Linked DNA regions of Homo sapiens: region 2 is linked to region 1. A link means that fine-mapping ties the variant in region 1 to the expression of a gene that starts in the linked region. Tissue or cell type: whole blood. Region 1 holds a variant in brackets; the other region holds the start of a gene. All regions are shown on one strand. Distances are from middle to middle.

Region 1 (2,500 bases):
CAACCCCTCCTTCTCCTTCTCTTTCTTCTCTGTCCTCCTCCCACCTTCTCTACCTCCTCTTCCTCCTCCTCTTTCCTGTTCTTCTTCCTTCTTCCTCACCTCTCTAGGTCCACTTCGAGTTGGAGATTTAGGAAAAATGAGGCAGGAAAAAGCGTCTTGATGTGACTGACTACATGTCACTGCTTTGATCAAGGTCAAACCAAATCAGTCTGATGTTTGTGGTCTTTGGTGATGTAGTTAGTCATTGCCTCATAGGCGATATAAGTTGTTTCCCTGGAATGTTGTTTAGTTTCATGTGACTTCTCACAGTAAGGACCATCCCTCAAACAGAGGAACAGTTATTTCTTCCTCCTTCCCCAGCAAGGTGCTGGCCCCCTTCCCTTCTTCTGCTTAAGAAGCAAATCCCCAGTTGTCTAGACAGTTTCATGTCTCCTGCCCTTATACCAATCTCTGCTATGGAAAATACAGAATATCTTGTTCCATGCCCTTTAAGGGCCACAGAAGGATTGGTGTGGGATTGGGGCAGAGAGGCTAGACAGGAGCAACTAGCCCTTAATCTTCCCAGACATTATACACTTCAGGGCCTGGTGTCAAGCCATACTAGCAAGTCTGCTCCAAAATTTTATGCCAGAAGAAACTAAAAGACTCTGATCAAGAATACCATAAAACTTCAGTGGACACTTACATGTAGAGAGAGGTGCTGAAAAGATTCCTCATACCATAGAGCATAACAAGCATCCAGCCATGAACAAGAGCTCAGCCTCCCATCTTGTAGGCATCCTTGATCTTTATGAGTGGGGCCCTTCACAGCTGGCACTGGGTAGAGAAAAACACCCTCTTCCTACTCTAATGGAAGAATTAGCCTCTTAACCCAAATATTCTGTTTCTCACAAGGTCAACGACTCTCTCTAGTCTTTCTCTTACATTGATGGAGCAGGTGGGAGGAGCAGGGCTGTATCTATCCTGTTTGGCTGATTGGCTATTGACTCTAATAATGTTTTTGTCTCTAATTTGAGATCTAAAATTCAAGAATATGGTAAATTCCACTCAGGAACTTGTTACAGTATTTTTTTCACTTTATCTTATATCCATTGCATGTCAAAAGCACAGTACTGAATGAATTTTCATTTACCCCTACAGATAAGAAAGAAAATTTTAAGTAAATTATCAGAAGAAACCAAAGTAGCTCTTACAAAACTCCATAACTCTCTGAATGAAAAGGTAAGTAAAGTTTTATTCTATTTACATGTCAGGGCTAGCAGTTTGTTACAAAGATCTTTGAGTAGATTTTTTTATCAGAGTAATTGTAAATCCAATCTAAAACTAGTATTTTGCACTCAGCTGCCTCTTTGAAATGAGAAGAGAAGACCAAGCTGCTGGCATTTTACCATTGTTAGTTCTATATCACAATTTCTAACTTAATGAGAAAGTGACCCTTTTAAAAATTGTATTTGGGATGTAAAATTACAAAACAATTGTTAAATGGCTATACTTCCTTATGCAGTTATATATAAAAGTAAATTATGGTATTCAATGCCTTTTCAGAGCATAGAAGA[C/T]TTTATTTCTTGTCTGGATTCTGCAGCAGAAGCTTGTGATATTATGGTGAAAAGGGGAGACAAAAAAAGGGAAAGGTAACATTAAATTAATCTATATTTGGAAATGTTCTTAAATGTGGAGCCTTTCATATCTGAAATTTGAATTTGACTGCCCGGCTCTTACACAGAGAATATGTACCTAATGTGTCTAATATATCTAAATGGCTGTAGACCTTCAAGAATATTCAAAGTCTTAAAATAGTTAGATATTTCTCTCTGACCCTCTGGATCAAGTAGCAGAGTTTCTTTATCCTATAGTTCATCAAGCCCAGGAACTTTTTATTAGCTTGGGGACTTTCCTTACAGGAAACCTTACCTAATCAGTGCAAATTTGTTTGACCTCCAGCAACTCAAAACAAAAAACATACTTTGAGTATTCCCACTCTATAGCTTTTTCTTTAATTTTGTAGCACACTAATCTATCCATGCCATTTAGGTTTTATGTGTGTATATCCCATATTGAAAAGTTACCTTAAATTTTTATGGAATTAGATAAACTAGAGAAGCTAAAAATTAACAGAAAGGGATGAATTGAAATTGGTGAGAACTTCTTAAATTATGATAATGAATTTGTGTGCTTTTTTTTTTTTTTAGACAGATACTGTTCCAACATCGACAAGCACTGGCTGAACAGCTAAAGGTCACAGAAGACCCTGCTCTTATTCTGCACCTCACATCAGTCCTGTTGTTTCAGTTTTCAACCCACAGCATGCTCCATGCACCTGGAAGATGTGTCCCACAGATCATTGCTTTTCTTAATAGTAAAATTCCAGAGGTATTACATTTTCAATACACTTGAAACTTTCAAAGATTTACATTCTGAATATTTTGAGTGGATTGAGATGAATTACTGTCAGCACTCAGGTATAAAATACATTAACATCAAAGCCCATTTCCAATAATGT
Region 2 (2,660 bases), 30 kb before region 1:
GTGAAGACGACCAGAGGTCACTGTATTCATCATCTTGGTTTCTGGTGGGTTTTGGTTGGCTTCACTACTGCAACCTGTTTTATCGGCAAGGTCTTTATGACTTGTTTTTCCTGCCTGTGGACCTTCTATCTCACTCTGTGACTAACCTCCTGGGAATGCAGCCCAGTAGGTTTCAGCCTTATTTTACCCAGCCCCTATTCAAGATGGAGTTGCTCTAGTTCAAACGCCTCTGACAACTAGTCACCCTGCTGTGCTATCAAATACTTGATATTATTCATTCTTTCTAACTGGAATAATATTTTTTAAATAGTAAAGAGTGAGATACATGAACTCCAAATATCTGAGACAGGTCACAATCAACTCAGAAAGTTTATTTAGCCAAAGTTAAGAACTTGCATCCATGACATGGCACAGATCCTGACAACATGCGCCCAAGGTGGCTGGGGCACAGCTTGGTTTTACACATTTTAGGGAGACATGGGGCAGCAATCAATATATGTAAGATAAACATTGGTCTGATCTGGAAAAGCGGGGCAACTCCAAGTGGGGAGGAAGTTCCAAGTCATAGGTAGATAACAGACAGTTGCATTCTCTTATGAGCCTCTCCAAATGAGGCAATCAGACATGCATTTATCTCAGTGAGCAGAGGGGTGACTTTGAATAGAATGGGAGGCAGGATTCCCTAAGCAGTTCCCAGTATGACTTTTCCCTTTAGCTTAGTGATTTGGGGGTCCCATGATTTATTTTCAATTCATAAGATATAAAAAAGATATAAAAAAGAAAGGTACACCTGAGTAAATATCTACTCAACAGGGAAGCAGGATACATGTTCTCTTTGCTTTCCCTGTTTCCTTGATAGCCATGCACCTTATGTTTATATTCCTCATTATTTGATGAAGTTAATCATTGCAATAAGAGAAATACGAAAGACTCTAGAACTCTAGACACGAAAGCAATTATACAGCCTTTATGACACGCAAATTTATTCACTCTGTAAAAAAAAAGTAATTACTTTCGGTAGGGTCTCCCATGTATCTTCCAAAAGGCAGACTGCTCTGGGTGCATGTAAAAATTAACACGATACCCTATACAAAAGGGAATGCTCAGAGTTAACAGCTAGAGAAGAGAGGCGCCAATCTTAGACACAGGCTTATTCCTCCGCACCCTCCCCCAAAACAAATGGAGGACAGAAGAAAAAAGAAAAGTAGTTAATACAACTATTACTCTACGGAAATATTAGGGGTAGCGCAAACAAAGTTCTGACACTAAACTTTACTGAGCCCTGCATCCTGCCCACGACCCCCCCAGAAACACCTACGCACCACTCTCCTAGCCGCCGCAGCCCCGCCAGTCTCGCCGGGAGGAACCCCCAGCGCCGCGGTACAACCACGGCACTTCCGCCCGCCCCCCGCGCCTCGGGCGCAAGCGTTTGGTGTGTCTGCGTCGGGGGCGGAGCCTCTTGTCCCTCTGCGCGGCCCGTTCCGCCTCTCTTCTCCCACCGCCTGTCGGCTGACGTGTCTGCAGTTCCTCCGCGTCTACTGCGAGTCAGGCCGTGATGGCGGACGCCTGGGAAGAGATTAGGCGGTTGGCGGCCGACTTCCAGCGGGCGCAGTTCGCCGAGGCCACGCAGAGGTGCCCGACCCTCCCTCTCCTTTGTGGAGCCCAAATTAGGCCGTGGGCGGACACGCCTGTATCTGGGACTTTAGACCCGCGGCCCTGCATCCCGGGTCTTCTCGCTGCTTGTCACCATTCTCTCCTCCTCCCTCTGTCCCGAGCCTGGATCGCAGTTCCAAGTCCAAGGCTCGGCGGGAAAGTCCTCAGCCTAGGACGCCCTGGAGCCCCCCAGCCCAGCTGCAGCGAAATGCTGGCGCGCCCCGCCCCACCATGGACGGGGCCGGTGATTTCGAGCTGCCTTTATTGAGCATTTCTTTGACCCTCCCTCACCCACCAACCACCAAATCACTGTGACATCTTGGCTATTATACACTTCCTGATCTAGAATGAGCTCGAAAGGAGAGGCTAACCCCCGCCCCCAGTACAGTACTTGGCAAATAGTATGTTGATCCTTAAAACTTCTTGCCCTTTTATCTCTCGTAACAGACCTAGGGCTAGACCCCTGACCCCATCTGTTATTCAGGGCACTGACATTTTCTACAAGCCCACTAACCTTTGGAGGATGTGTCCAGAGGAGCCTAACTCTGCTTTTTAAAAATAACGCTAATAGAAGCCTTTCTATTCTTTGACTACTTCCTACCTGCGATGTTTTATTCCTTTTGAGCCGGAAGACAGCAATCCCCTTATGCTGTATTTTCTACCACTGATAGCAAACTCGTAACTGCATGGGTAACTAACGTGGGTAAAAGTTATGGTTTCACTAGGCCACATCCCCTGCCTGCTTGCAGACCATGTGTGTAAGTGAGGCAATTATGCACTTAATTTAAAAGAAAATTCTGATTAAACTGGAAATTAGGGCATTTTTTGTTTTGTTTTGTTTTGTTTTTTCTTTTTTCCTACCTAAATAAATGTCTTCAATTTTCCCTTCAGATTTGAAGATTGGAAGCAGGCCTGTAAGAGACAACAGACTTGAAATTTGTGATGGGATGATGTGTACCAATTAAATAAATGATTTAAGCATATGTAAACCTACTTACTCTGAAAGG

The links. PIP is the estimated chance that this variant, and not a neighbour inherited with it, causes the effect.
Region 2: UFL1 starts here. The variant in region 1 is fine-mapped to the expression of UFL1 in whole blood (TOPMed, PIP above 0.99). The same link has a PIP of 0.9 or more in blood mononuclear cells.

The regions. Positions count from the first base shown.
Region 1 is chr6:96,550,293-96,552,792 of GRCh38, forward strand. It overlaps UFL1 (UFM1 specific ligase 1), which reads left to right. Exons shown (of 19, transcript NM_015323.5): 16 at 1,141-1,221; 17 at 1,546-1,631; 18 at 2,190-2,370. Among named protein-coding and RNA genes, the nearest start is that of FHL5, 12 kb to the right of the region's middle. The variant C/T (reference allele first, on the strand shown) is at 1,557.
Region 2 is chr6:96,520,319-96,522,978 of GRCh38, forward strand. UFL1 (UFM1 specific ligase 1) reads left to right here and starts at 1,488. Exons shown (of 19, transcript NM_015323.5): 1 at 1,488-1,632. The coding sequence starts at 1,556. UFL1-AS1 (UFL1 antisense RNA 1) reads right to left here and starts at 1,396. Exons shown (of 4, transcript XR_007059687.1): 1 at 1-1,396. RefSeq lists enhancers at 1-204, 205-1,076, 1,077-1,948, 1,093-1,282, 1,949-2,660.